4 linked regions of the Homo sapiens genome follow. The protein of the gene in region 2 purifies or fractionates together with the protein of the main gene of each other region. This does not show direct contact. Each region holds a gene or a part of one and is shown on either strand. Other genes may lie near its edges.

Region 1 (3,952 bases), on a different chromosome or scaffold from region 2:
GAAGATAGGAAGATAGCTTGAGTCCAGGAGCTCGAGGCTGCAGTGAGCTATTATTATCTTGCCACTGCACTCTAGCCTGGGTGGCAGAGTGAGACAACCCCCTTCTTTTTTTTTTTTTTTTTTTTTTTTGAGACAGAGTCTTGCTCTATCACCCAGGCTGGAATGCAATGATGCAATCTTGGCTTACTGCAACTTCTACCTCCCAGGCTCAAGGGATCCTCCTGCCTCAGCCTCCCAAGTAGCTGGACTATAGACATGTATTACCATGCCCAGCTAATTTTTTTATTTTTTGTAGAGATGGTGTTTCACTATGTTGCTCAGGATGGCCTCAAACTCCTGGGCTCAAGCGATCCTCCTGCCTTAGCCTACCAAAGTGCTGGGATTACAGACATGAGCCACTGCACCCAGCCTGAGACACTTCTCTAAAAAAATACATAAATAAATAAAAGTTAAAATAATAAAAAATTTTAAAAGTTGTTTAAATAGGGCCGGGCGCGGTGGCTCATGCCTGTAATCCCAGCACTTTGGGAGGCCGAGACGGGTGGATCACAAGGTCAGGAGATCGAGACCATCCTGGCTAACACAGTGAAACCCCGTCTCTACTAAAAATACAAAAAAATAGCCGGGCGTGGTGGCGGGCGCCTGTAGTCCCAGCTACTCGGGAGGCTGAGGCAGGAGAATGGTGTGAATCCGGGAGGCAGAGCTTGCAGTGAGCTGAGATGGTGCCACTGCACTACAGCCTGGGTGACAGAATGAGACTCCGTCTCAAAAAAAAAAAAAAGTTGTTTAAATACATAAAATAATCAAAAGTGAGTATAGATGAAATAAGAGTGGCCATAAGTTCATAATTACTGAAGCTGGAGGAAGGTACTTGGGGGTTCATTACACCATTCTCTCTCCTGTTTCTGTTTGACTGTTTCCATAATACAATGTTAAGAAAGGATTAAACGTGTCACCCCCTCCTAGAAGCCCTCTCACATTCCTCAGTCTGAATTAGATCCCCCTTTCCGGGGCTTGCCAATACACCTGATGTGCTGACCGGCAATTCTGTTGTTTGCCCCTCCCTCTTGGGGGCAGGGGCTGCACTGGCAGGAGAGGTGTGGCTTCCACTTAAGGGTCCGGTATGCCTGCCTCCTCGGGCCAGCCCAGATCATACCCTGCTGGGCAAAGGAGGAAGAGCCAGAGGATCCAGACGCCTTGGAGGACTTGGAACACCTGTAACAGGACAAGGAGTTCTGCTCAGGCACGTGGCCACAGAAAACTACTTAGGAAGCCTGTGGTGAGAACAACAACAGTGCCTGAGAATCCCACGGCTCTGGGGAAGTGAGCCCCGAGGATGAGGCTGCTCGCCTGGCTGATTTTCCTGGCTAACTGGGGAGGTGCCAGGGCTGAACCAGGTACAGCACTGGGAATGTCTGCTATGCCTTTGTTTTGTACTGTGAACTCTGGGGCTGCGGGAAGCTGCTCGCAGCCAGCTTGAAGGTGCTTCTAAAGATAGCAAGGCAGGAGCTAGGCAGGGAGGCAGGTGGGGAGAGCTAGTGGGCCTTAGCAAGTGCTGTTTGAGGCTGAAGATTTTAAGTGGAGGCGCCAGCTGGCCAGGGAGGGACACCGACATTGCGAAGAGGTCTGGGTACGTGAGAGCTAGCTAATTAGTAGAGGTAGGAGGTGGCAGGAAAGATTCGTGGACTCATTCAACAAATGAGGTCCTTTCCTGTACCATACGTTATTCTAGGAGCCAGGGATATATCAGAGAAGAAAAGAAAGTCCCCGTCTCAATGAAGAATTCCTTCATCTGGGGAGAAAAAAACAAACCACACGAACAAGTAAAGTACGCAGCATTGGAGGAGATGATAAGTGTTATGGGGAAAATAAAGTAGAACAGGGAAGGCGGGTTGTGGGGAGGGGGTACTTACAAGACGTCCAGAGAAGAGCTGTCAAATCAGGTGACACTCAAGTGGAGCCTTGAGGCAGTGAGTGGGGGAGCCACATGGGTGTCCAGAACATTACAGGAAGAGAGGACAGTGCACGGGGTCTGAGGTGGACACACAGGAGATGTGCATGAGGAACAGCAAGGAAGCCCGCGTGGCTGAAGCAGGGTGGGCAGGACAAGTGGGGGTGAGGTTGGCAGATGGTGGGGTGGGGCAGGTGCCAAATCATGGATAGCCTCGAAGACTCTCTTGAGGACTCAGACATTTTTCTTTCCACGTGCCTGTAGATAGGAAGGACGCAGGCTTTTGCTCAGGGTGAAATGGGATGTCATTGGAGGGTTCTAGGCACAGGTGTAATCTATTCTGACTTCTGTATGTTTAAAAGGACCCTTGAGGCCAGACGCAGTGGCTAACATCTGTAATCCCAGCACTTTGGGAGGCTGAGGAGGGTGGATTGCTTGAGTCCAGGAGTTTGAGACCAGCCTGGGCAACATAGCAAAACCCTGACTCTACTAAAAATACCAAAAATTAGCTGGGTGTGGTAGTGGGTGCCTGTAGTGCCAGCTACTTGGGAGACTCAGCTGGGAGAATTACCTGAGCCTGGGAGGTTGAGGCTGCAGTGAGCTGTGATTGTGCCACTGCACCCCAGCCTGGGTGACGGGAATGAGACCATCTCAAAAAAAAAAAAGAAAATGAAAGAAAAAAATTCTCTTTATAGCCCCTCTGAAGTAGGTGCTAATATCATTATACCCATTTTGCAGATGAGGCAAATGAGTCTCAGAGGGGACATTGCACTTGCTGAAGATCTCCCAGCTGGGAAATGGCAGGACAAAGCCTGTGCCTGGCTGTACTATGCTTCATGTCCTCTTGGGATGGTGGGGTTTAGAGGTACTATTTTTTTCTCTTTTCTCCAAACTTGCTGGAATGTATTCCTTTTAAAGTAAATTTAAAAGGAATTCCGGGCCGGATGCGGTGGCTCACGCCTGTAATCCCAGCACTTTGGGAGGCCGAGGCGGGCGGATCACGAGGTCAGGAGATTGAGACAATCCTGGCTAATACGGTGAAACTAAAAATACTCTACTAAAAGTACAAAAAATTAGCCAGGCGTGGTGATGAGCACCTGTCGTCCCAGCTACTTGGGAGGCTGAAGCAGGAGAATGGGGTAAACCCGGGAGGTGGAGCTTGCAGTGAGCCGAGATTGCACCACTGCACTCCAGCCTGGGCGACAGAGTGAGGCTCCGTCTCAAAAAACAAACAAACAAACAAACAACAACAAAAAAAGGAATTCCGCAGCACCTGTAAGGTTTTTCCAACTCCAGGTGTCTTCCTGAAGCACAGGTGGATTCTGAGACAGGGGATCAGACAGCATCATCCCTGCTTTGCATTAAACTGTGGGATTTCTGCCTCCACTTTCCTTAGCCAGGAGCTTGGGTGGATGCCAACTTGCTGGCTCCTTCTCCTCCTACACATGTCCTGTGTAACATTTCGCTCCTTCCTCAGCTTCTAACTGCAGAGAAGCAGACAGGTTCTTCCCCTGTGGGTTAGCTTGGTAGGAAAACACTCCCTGGAAGGCCAGCCCAGGGCTGAGGGAGCAGGACCAGGGCAGGAATGGTAACACCTACCTCTGGAGCTATTGTGAACAGAGGGTATTCACTGTAGGTGGTCCGTAAATGTAGGTTTTAACAAATGAACTCCATGGGTTTTGGAGGGCCTCCATTTACAAAGGATGAATTACAATTGTGTTTTGGGGCTAATGCTAGCCTTAATAGCAAAGGACTGAAATAGAGACTGAGACCATTGTGTGGTGTGGGTTATAGGCAATAACAGACAAAAGCCACTGAATCACAGGAGTCAGACTAGGAGGGCCTTCAGGGAACCTCTGTTCAGTACTTTCATCTTATACTTGAGGAAACGGAGGCTGAGGGGCAGTGTGGCCCAGGGAATGAGTCCTAAGGCTGCCTTGCTCACCCCACAGCCAGGTGCTCTGTATAAGAGAACTCTTTTACCTGCACAACTGAGGCAGG
Region 2 (3,500 bases):
CTGAATCAGTGTGGGCCTAAAAGAGTACCTGGGTCAGATTAGCCGGCGTGGTGGCATGTGCCTGTAATTCCAGCTACTCGGGAGGCTGAGGCAGGAGAACTGCTTGAACCTGGAAGGCGGAGGTTGCACTGAGCCAAGGTTGCACCACTGCACTCCAGCCTGGGAGACAGAGTGAGATTCTGTCTCAAAAAAAAAAAAAAAAAAAAAAAAAAGAGTACCTGGGTCAGGTCTACAAACATATGCTGAATGCTTATGATGTGCCATGGACTGTGCTGGGAATTTGGAGATGAAGACATCAAACTAGCCTTAGAAAGGGCAGGTGGGAGGCTGGGCGTGGTGGCTCATGCCTGTAATCCCAGCATTTTGGGAGGCTGAGGCAGGTGGATCACTTGAGGCCAGGAGTTGGAGACCAGCCTGGCCAACATGGTGAAATCCCGATCCTACTAAAAATACAAAATTGGCCAGGTGCGGTGGCTCACACCTGTAATCCCAGCACTTTGGGAGGCCGAGGCGGGCGGATCATCTGAGGTCAGGAGTTCAAGACCAAACTGGCCAACATGGTGAAAACCCATCTCTACTAAAAATACAAAAAATTAGCTGGGCGTGGTGGCAGGCTCCTGTAATCCCAGCTACTCCGGAGGCTGAGGCAGGAGAATTGCTTGATCCCGGGAGGTGGAGGTTGCAGTGAGCCAAGATTGAGCCATTGCACTCCAGCCTGAGCAATAAAAGCAAAACACTGTCTCAAAACAAACAAACAAACAAAAAACAAAAATACAAAATTAGCAAGACTTGGTGGCGTGTGCCTGTAATCTCAGCTACTCAGGAGGCTGAGGCACGAGAATTGCTTGAACCCAGGAGGCAGAGGTTGCAATGAGCTGCAATCACACCACTGTGCTCCAGCTTGGGCAAGAGTGAGACTCTGTCTCAAAAAAAAAAAAAGACTTGTGGGAAAGATAAATACATCAATACTTAATCACACTGCAACGTGATATGACCAAATAAATCCACACCAAAGGAACATCATATTTAGAGGTACAAAGTACCATGGGTACAACATCCAGCTCAGAATTGTTGGAGCAGAGGATGGAGAAGGAGAGGGTAGAAGTGATGGATGGGGATGAAAAGCAGGTAGGGCTCAATCTTGGAAATCTTTATAGGCAATGCTAGAAAAGCCTGAACTTTATCTTTTAGGCCATGATTAACCACCAAAAATTTTCAAGCAGGCGAGGAATAGTTAAATGTCTGTCAATCATAATTCACTGCAGCCTCAAACTCTTGAGCTCAAGCAATCCTCCCACTTTGGCCTTCTAAGTAGCTGGGACTTCAGGTGTGTGCCATTACACCTAACTAATTTTTATTGTTTTTTTTTCTAGAGACAGAATCTTGCTCTATTGCCCAGGCTGGTCTTGAATTCCTGGCCTCAAGCAATCCTCCCACCTTGGTCTCCCAAAACACTGGAATTACAGTGAGACACTGTGCCCAGCTGTTAGATGTCTTTTTTTTTTTTTTGAGATGGAGTCTCGCTCTGTCCCGCAGGCTGGAGTGCAGTGGTGCGATCTCAGCTCACTGCAAGCTCCGCCTCCTGGGTTCACGCCATTCTCCTGCCTCAGCATCCCAAGTAGCTGGGACTACAGGCACCCGCCACCACGCCTGGCTAATTTTTTTGTATTTTTAGTAGAGACGGGATTTTACTGTGTTAGCCAGGATGGTCTCGATCTCCTGACCTCATGATTCGCCCGCCTCGACCTCCCAAAGTGCTGGGATTATAGGCATGAGCCACTGCACCCGGCCGATGTCTTTTTAAACACAGCAGTACGGAGGATGGATGTGATAGACAGTAGACTCCAGGCAAGGAATCCTAAAAGGAGTGTCTTGAGACAGTCCAGGTAAGAAAGAACAAAAGCCAGACTAAAGCAAGTCAGTGAAGGTGGAAAGGGAAGAACAGTTTCAAGGAGTATATAGGAGGTCAAATAAGCAGATCTTGTTTGATGGTATGTATGCAGCAAGAGCACAAGGAACAATAATGAATGCCTTGGGAATAGAGATGTTGAGTTTCAGGTTCATATGAGAGATGTGGGTGGAGATATCCACTAATCTGTCTAGAGCTTTTAAGAGAGGCTGGGCTAGAGGTCTGAAAGTCACAGGTGTAATAAATGTAGCAAACTATGACAGTGAAGTTGCCCAGAGAGAACTATGCAAGTGAGGACAGGGGAGATGCAACAACTGGAGAAGAAAAGTGGGGTGACTAGGAGAAGGAGGTTCAAGGAGAGAGTTGTTTTTTGTCTTTTTTTTTTCTTTTTTGAGACGGAGTTTCGCTCTTGTCACCTAGGCTGGAGTACAATGGCACACTCTCCGACTCCCGGGTTCAAGCGATTCTCCTGCCTCAGCCTCCCAAGTAGCTGGGATTACAGGCACGCACCACTACGCTCGGCTAATTTTTGTATTTTTAGTACAGATGGGGTTTCACCACGTTGGCCAGGCTGGTCTCGAACTCCTGACCTCAGGTGATTCACCCACCTCGGCCTCCCAAAGTGTTGGGATTACAGGGATGAGCCACCATGCCTGGCTTTTTTTTTTTTTTTTTTTTTTTGAGACGGCATCTCGCTCTATTTCCCAGGCTGGAGTGCAGTGGCGAGATCTCGGCTCACTGCAACCCCCCTCCCGGGTTCAAGTGATTCTCCTGCCTCACCCTCCCGAATAACTGGGATTACAGGTATGTGCCACCATGTCCGGCTAATTTTTGTATTTTTAGTCGAGACGGGGTTTTACCCTGTTGGCCAGGCTGGTCTCTAACTCCTGACCTCAAGTGATCTGCCTGCCTTGGCCTCCCAAAGTGCTGGGATTATAGGCGTGAGCCACTGCGCCCTGCTGGAAAGAGTTTTTATACGTTACTGTTATCAAACGCAGTAGAGGAGTAAAGTGAATTAAGAAAAGAAAGAGAGGCTGGGCACAGTGGCTCACGCCTGTAATCCCAGCACTTTGGGAAGCTGAGGTGGGCAGATCATTTGAGGTCAGGAGTTCGAGACCAGCCTGACCAACATGGTAAAACCCCATCTCTACTAAAAATACAAAAAAATTAGTTGGGCGTGGTGGCGCATGCCTGTAGTCCCAGCTACTCATGAGGCTGAGGCAGGAGAATTGCTTCAACCTGGTAGTCGGAGGTTGCAGTGAGCCAAGATCGCACCACTGCACTCCAGTCTGGGTGACAGAGCTAGACTCTGTCTCAAAAAAAAAAAAAAAAAAAGAAAAAGAAAAAGAAAGAGAGCCTGTAATCCCATCACTTTGGGAGGCCAAGGCAGGCGGATCACTTGAGATCAGGCATTCGAGACCAGCCTGGCCAACATGGCAAAACCCTGTCTCTACTAAAAATACAAAAATTAGCCAGACATGGTCGTGGGCACCTGTAATTCCAGCTACTTGGGAGGCTGAGGCAGGAGAATTGCTTGAACACGGGAGGTGGAGGTTACAGTGAGCCAAGATCACATCACTGCACTTCAGCC
Region 3 (3,500 bases), on a different chromosome or scaffold from region 2:
CCATTGATGAAGAGGGTCCGCTTCACCTGGGTGACAGGGGAGTGGGTTTGCCTTCTGAGGCTTGACCCCAGTGGAGCCAGGGGATGTGAGGGGTGGGGGGCACTAGAGAAAGAGGCTTTGTTTTGAGTGGGTAGAGAAGTAGGTGAGCAGAGGGGAACAGATGGGGTGGGAGGAGGCCTTAGTTATGGATAAGCCAGGTCCCAGGGAAAGCAGGGGAGTGTTTCCAACAGAAATCAGGCAGTGAGCCTAACAAAAGAGCCACGCCGTCCCATGCTCTTGAGGGGTTATAGAGGCAGAAGGGGGTACTACTTTCAGCTCCTTAGACCCTGAGAACCCAGCACAGTGGCTGGCATGGAGTAGGTGTCCGGTTCTGGCTTGGTGAGTGCATGTAGAAGGGGAAGGAATATTACTATCCTAGGATCAGCCACTGCTATTTTCCCAAGTGCTGGGCACAGCACGGCTGTTTCTGTGTATTCCCCACAACCTTGGGGGAGGTACTGTTGTTATTCCATTTTACAGATGAGAAAATCATGGCTTGGGAGGTTATGTAACTTGCAGGATGGGAGCTCCTGAGCTGCTGTGCCAGCATTCAAACCTAGCTGACACCTCTTGGGGCTGAGACAAAAGAGGCCTGCAGGGAAGGGAAGGGAAGAGGCTGGGGATGGGGCAGGACCTGGGCTCTGCTCCACGCACCAGATCATCCTCCTTGTAGCGCATCTTGGAGGTGTGTCTACGCATGCTGTAGACGGTGAGCAGCAGATACAGGAAGGCGAAGGAGGTGTGCAGCCATAGCAGGTTGTTCCTGGGAGAAGCAGAGAGGATACATGGGAGCCACTGGGGCTAGGACACACTCAGAGGAGACACCTCAGCCTGTCAGTGTTAAACCCTTGATACAGACAGGGCCCTCTACTGCCACCAGCCTTCTGGCACTGACTCCTCGCAAGGCAGGCCCACATCCCACATCCCCTAGACACCAAAATTCTTCGATTCCAATGAAAATATCCCTGATAGGTCACCTTTCTACGCCCTACCCACTGGTTACAGTGTCTCCAACTGCCCCAGCTGGCCCTCCCTGGTTCCTGAGATTTCACCCTCCTCTTCTGTATCCTCTTCATCCTTGGGGGATCCTCAGCAGGCATTTCCCTCTTCTGTCTCCAACCCAAGCCCTCAGGGACCCATAGCCATCCCTGTAGGCTCTGCTCCCATCAACGCAGCTGCCTTTCCTCCCTGTCCCACATCATGGCCCAGACTCTGGTCGTAGACCTTGGCCTGGCCGACCAGCTTCGCATCTTACCCTGATTTCAAGTTGGCAATGGTGGTTCTCCCAAAGCTGTAGGCATTGTTCTCTGTGGGGTGGGAAGAGGGAGAGGATGATGGTGGGGTCAGGGCACATCCCCTCCAGCCCCATCCTCTCTCCACCCTAGCCGTCCTGGCCCTCACTGACCCAGCAGGTCCCCTGAGAAGTTGACAGGCAGCACGATGCCTACGGAGAGGACGCCCACAACCACCAGCAGCCCGATGATGTGCCGCTGAAAGGACAGGTAGTGCACGGCATCGCCCCCACATTTGTCCCGGATCTCATCATCCCTGCAGCCATACGGGTTGGACAAAGGAATTAGGTTAGGACCAGGGCAAGAAGGGGGCTGCAACTTGCCTGCCCTCACCCACTCCCACCCCAAACCCACCCTAGCTCCAGCTGATCTGGCAGTAGTATAGGGCTGAAATGGGACTTCTTGGTCCCCTATTTTCTGTGAAGGGAGAGGGGAGAAAGGGAGAAGAGAGGGGGAGGGAGAAAAAGGAGAAATGCATGGAGAAGGGGAGGGATGAAGGCAGAGGGCTAGAAGGAAAAGATAGGTAAAAGAAAGAAGAGACTGCAGAGACAGGAAGGGGAAGAAGAAAAATGAGGAATGCAGAGAAAAGGGAAGAAAAAAGAGAAATATCTGAGGAGGGAGGAAGGCAAGAGAGGAGGAGGACCAGCAGGAGGAGGAGTGGTGAAAGAGGCAGAAGTGAAGGAAGGATGGGAGGAGGGGCAGCAGCACCTCATGGGTGTGGCTGAGCCTGGCGTAGTGAAGCCCGGGTACCCTTGGGGGAGGCCTGGGGGAGTGGTGGCGGCAGTGCTGACCTGTCCTGGCTTCCTGCCTTTCTCAGCGCTCACTGCCTGCCTGCTGGACTCTGGCTGGATCTCCTGAGTTCTGCCTGCAGCTGGCTGGCTGCTCCCAGCCTACTGCTGCCCCCACTCACTGGCTGCACAGAGGTTGAGGCAGGGGCTCCACCCCCTCCCTCAAGGTGGGGCAGGGCAGGGAGAGAAGCGGGGGGGCCGGCAGGGGGTCACAGAGGAGATTATGGGGTCAAGTGAGTGTTCAGGGTACAGCAGAGGCTCAGGCACCCGAGGCTTGGCCTTTGAGAGCAGGGAGGAGGGTGCTGTGCTGGCGAGGAGTGCTAAGGCCCTGAAAGCTGCTGGCTTCTGAATTTTGTAGGGAGATGCCAGGTTCTGAAGTTTCTCTCTTTCTTTAGAGCTTGAAGATGGTCCACTTACTTTATCCTGAAGATGGCTGTCAGCCAGGAACAGAAACCCTGGGGGAACAGAGGGCTGTCAGCGGGAGTCCCCAGCCCACCAACCCGAACCTCTCTCCTCCCTCAAGTCCCACCCATTCTCATAATTACCTCCAGGCATAGCTTCCACACCCCTCACTAAAAAAAAATCCTTATACCCTCAGAACTAGCTTATACCCAAAAAGGGAGAGAGAGAGGGAAGGTCTCAGCCCTCAAAGAAAAAAGACCAACACTAAACAGGTTTATCTGTGAATCCCCATGTCCAGATCTACAGATTTCTGCAAATACCCTGTGGCTGTGTGGGCCAGGGTGGGATGGGTGGGGCTTGGGGTTCTAAGGTTAGCAGGACCTCCAGACCTCCGGCTAATAAGTTTGCAACATGGCTGCCAAAAGCAGAGAAGAGGGCCTTGCTGCCTGAATTCCAGCTATTTATCCTCTAGTCTACCCCAGAAGGACAAAAGCCCAGGGTCACTATGAGCTGCAAGGTATCTCCCCACCTCCGGCCAGGTGCGGTGGCTCACGCCTGTAATCCCAGCACTTTTGGAGGCCAAGGCGGGCGGATCAACTGAGGTCAGGAGTTCGAGATCAGCCTGGCCAACATGGTGACACCCCGTCTCTTACTAAAAATACAAAAATTAGCTGGGTGTGGTGGTGCGCGCCTGTAATCCCAGTTACTTGGGAGGCTGAGACTGGAAAATTGCTTGAACCCAGGAGGCGGAGGTTGCAGTGAGCTGAGATCACACCACTGCACCCTAGCCTGGGCGACAGAGCAAGACTCTGTCTCAGGGAAAAATTAAAAAAAAAAAAAAATCTCTCCCCTCCACCCTCCAGGCATGTAAAGGCAGAGAATGGGGATATTCAGGGGAGGGCTGCGCAGAGGGCACCCTGCCCCAAACTCCATCCAGCAGAAGGTCCAGACATAACACAGGATGGGGTAGAAAGGTGCC
Region 4 (3,500 bases), on a different chromosome or scaffold from region 2:
GAGTGAGACTCCATCTCGAAAAAACAAAAAAGATATAATTTATATCTTACAGAATGGTCTGTTTAGAGCCACACGATTAGGGCACACACTATTTCACCTTCGTAGACAGTATTTACCCAAACTCAACCGAGAGCACAGGAATGGAGACACAGAGCCCTCGAGAGAGGGACTTACAGTCGAGGCCAGCATGGAGCCTCCGAACCACACGGCGTAGCGCTGCATGTGATGCGTGACCACCTGGACCTCCACAGGCTTCGGCTGGAAGAGAAAGCAGCTCTCACTTACCCCACACCCACAGACACATGTGATCTAATCATCCCCCGGCTGACGAGACCACAGCTGCACCCAGGGCCGCCCTCCTCTTATGGCACGAGCACCACCTCACACCCAGCACTCAGTGACTCTCCGCCCCTGCTGCCAAATCCCCCTAAGACCTACCAGAATCCCAGCCCCCAGCGCTCAAAGGAACACAGTGCACCCGGCAAGCAGCACCTCCCTCTCACAAGGCTCAAAGCGCTAAAGTTCAAAAGCACAAAATCCAAGCAATTAACCCCACTGCTTTTTTTTTTTTAACCTAACATATCAGATGTTCTGGCACTGTAGAGATCATCCCAAATAAGATTAACCATCCTCAAAATAATAAAAGAAACTGTGCTTTTCTGGCCGGGCGTGGTAGCTCGCACCTGTAATCCCAGCACTTTGGGAGGCCGAGGCGCATGGATCACAAGGTCAGGAGATCGAGACCATCCTGGCTAACACGGTGAAACCCCATCTCTACTAAAAATACAAAAAATTAGCCGGGCTTGGTGGCGGGCACCTGTAGTCCCAGCTACTCAATAGGCTGAGGCAGGAGAATGGTGTGAACCCAGGAGGCAGAGCTTGCTATGAGCCGAGATCTCACCACTGCACTCCAGCCTGGGCGACAGAGAGAGACTCTGTCTCAAGAAAAAAGAAAAAAAAGAAAAGAAACTGTGCTCTTCCAACAGTGGACTCGTGGGATCTCTTCCTTGCGCCCACTGCCCCTATCGAAGCCCACTCTTGGTTAGAAGCCCACAGTGATCACCAGCTACTTAAGAATTACTATCTTGGAGGAACGCCTTGTAACTCCCTGCTAACATTAGTTATTTTCATTTAATGAGAACATTTCCGAAGGACATGAAAGATCCTCACCATAAATTAGTCCCATCTCCTTGGGACACTGGTCATTATACCCCATGCCTGATCTCTTACGACACAAAAGGAAACTGCTGGCAGGCATGGCCAGGGAGAGTGTGAAGCTGCCGTTGCTGTGTCACCAGGACCATCAGTCTGAACTACCAGCCTGGAAGGACCTCAGGCAGCAAACCTCCATGGTCATGTCACAATGCAGCTCAGAAAGCGATGAACACTTGTTTTTATTTTACGCGGCCCAGACAAGCTCCTTCGGCTCTGTGTCAGGAGGGCCCCGGTCAGGCCTGGGGCAATAGCCCCAGGCACTGCGTGGAGGCCTCTGGCTCCTACCTTGATCCTCCCGCCGCTGAGCTCCTCGCTGAGCCTCAGCCTAGCATCCACCACTCTCTTCAAATCCCTCTGCAGTCGGCGTCCGAAATCCCTGAACATGGTGGAGCCTCCTGAGAGTACGACATTCTACAAGACACAAAGCAGAGGGAGCCCTGGGTAAAACCGCCCGCCCACAGTTCCGGGAACCACCCACAACAGAACTCCCACAGGTCCAATCGCTTGTGGGCACGACACATCGGCCCTATGAAAGATGCGAACAAAAGCAAACTTAATGCTATTGGAAAAGTGTAGATTTTTTTTTTATGGAGACAACAATGTGCCACAGATGGCTCCTTAATCCTTTCCTCAATTACAGCAAAGCAAAAACAAGGCGATCCTGCTCCCTCATGCTCCCCCTGCCAACCCCTCACATAGACCAGGAAGCCAAAACAAACAACAGAAACTGTCCAGCTGACTTGAGCCAAAATAACACCAGCTCTCCCCTGGTCCGCCTTAACCATCACTGGGGGAAAGTCTTCTAATGGGTGCTTGAAGCTTCTCAGAAGGACAATCTTGGGAAGAAAGCATCCAAGTTACCGGAAGGAACATTCTCAGATGAGCCACCCAGCCAGCACTGCCCTCCAGGGCCAAGACTCGCTCGGTGGCCACCCCAGAAGCTCGGTGGGGGGCTGAGGAAGGGGAAGCACTCGCCTGTCCCGCTCCGCCTGCCCAGAACCCGAACCAGCCCTCTGTCCAGCATCTCCGCGTTGTCAACCCTGCCCACCTGTCAGTCATCCATACCGTCAGCTCCTGACCTGCAGCCACTGACATCCTCATGGTTTGACGGCCCAGGTCACCCGAGCAGCTGGTCCTCTTCTGATGTATGTCAGAGGCCACAGTGGCCTCACCTACGTCACTCACCTCTCGCCCTCTCACCATGGGGCACTGCATCATCTCACACCCTCACAAGATGAGGAAGGGTGAGTATGGTACAGAAAGGTATTTTTAGACAGACAGAGAGAGACCACATTTATATAACTTTTCCTACAGTATATTGTTACAATAATTATTCTACTTTAGTAGTTACTGCTGTTCAGAAGTCTCTTACTGTGCCTAATTTCTAAATTAAACTTTATCATAGGTATGTATGTACAAGAAAAAACACAGTATATATAGGATTCGGTACTATTTGCAGTTTCAGGCACCCACTGGAGGTCTTGAATCATATCCTCACTGACAAGGGGGACTAGTGTATCTCCTGATTGAACTTTCTTAGAGAAAACACCTTATGTGAAAACTACATAAGGAAATTAATCCTTCAAGGAGTCAAAAAGCCCTATTTCCTTTAAGACCCTCTAAATATGTTAGCTCTTCCCGAGTTCCTGAGCAACTACAGAGCTCTCTGCTTTCAGGCACTCCTCCCAGTCAGCTCTGAGTGTGTGAACAGTGAGTCCCTCAACAAGTTTACAGGTAAGCAGAAGTCACAGGGAATCAGCACGGAAAAAAAAATGCACTTTTCTGTCCCTAGCAACCCAGGTTCTAAGTTATATGATATGAGAGTAGTCTGTTCCTGCTTACTGCTGTTCTGGGGAAAGACAGCCAGGACTGACTACAAAGGGATCATTTTTCTCTCATGCCAGCTCCTAGAACTGCTGTGACAGCACCCACGTGGACTCAGGATTAGAGATGGTGAAGTCAGAGCAGGAAGAATGAAACGGGGCAGAAGCCACAGGAAGCCACCAGTGATCCGGCCTTCCATTTGGGGAAGCCACAGTGATCTGGCCTTCTACCTGGAGAAGTGACCAGTGATCTGGCCTTCTACCTGGAGAAGCCACCAGTGATCTGGCCTCCTACCTGGAGAAGCCACCAGTGATCTGAACTTCTACCTGGAGAAGCCACCAGTGATCTGGCCTTCCACCTGGAGAAGCTGGCCTTCCACCTGGAGAAGTGACCAGTGATCTGGCCTTCTACCTGGAGAAGCCACCAGTGATCTGAACTTCTACCTGGAGAAGCCACCAGTG

Evidence for each region. The genes of interacting proteins can lie anywhere in the genome.
Region 1: the proteins of TUBD1 (region 2) and SMPDL3B purify together in Homo sapiens (affinity purification with mass spectrometry; one large-scale study listed by BioGRID and IntAct). This does not show direct contact.
Region 3: the proteins of TUBD1 (region 2) and TMEM63B purify together in Homo sapiens (affinity purification with mass spectrometry; one large-scale study listed by BioGRID and IntAct). This does not show direct contact.
Region 4: the proteins of TUBD1 (region 2) and ACTR3B purify together in Homo sapiens (affinity purification with mass spectrometry; one large-scale study listed by BioGRID and IntAct). This does not show direct contact.

What each region holds. Positions count from the first base shown.
Region 1 is NC_000001.11:27,933,848-27,937,799, forward strand, and holds the start of SMPDL3B (acid sphingomyelinase-like phosphodiesterase 3b isoform 1 precursor), read left to right. Parts: upstream 1-1,152; 5' UTR 1,153-1,336; coding exon 1,337-1,397; intron 1,398-3,952. UniProt on the Homo sapiens protein: Lipid-modulating phosphodiesterase. Active on the surface of macrophages and dendritic cells and strongly influences macrophage lipid composition and membrane fluidity. Acts as a negative regulator of Toll-like receptor signaling.
Region 2 is NC_000017.11:59,886,444-59,889,943, forward strand, and holds part of TUBD1 (tubulin delta chain), read right to left. Parts: intron 1-3,500. UniProt on the Homo sapiens protein: Acts as a positive regulator of hedgehog signaling and regulates ciliary function.
Region 3 is NC_000006.12:44,137,554-44,141,053, reverse strand, and holds part of TMEM63B (mechanosensitive cation channel TMEM63B), read right to left. Parts: intron 2,575-3,500; coding exon 2,537-2,574; intron 1,588-2,536; coding exon 1,445-1,587; intron 1,347-1,444; coding exon 1,295-1,346; intron 803-1,294; coding exon 694-802; intron 27-693; coding exon 1-26. UniProt on the Homo sapiens protein: Mechanosensitive cation channel with low conductance and high activation threshold. Osmosensitive cation channel preferentially activated by hypotonic stress.
Region 4 is NC_000007.14:152,850,252-152,853,751, reverse strand, and holds part of ACTR3B (actin-related protein 3B), read right to left. Parts: intron 1,627-3,500; coding exon 1,501-1,626; intron 259-1,500; coding exon 175-258; intron 1-174. UniProt on the Homo sapiens protein: Plays a role in the organization of the actin cytoskeleton.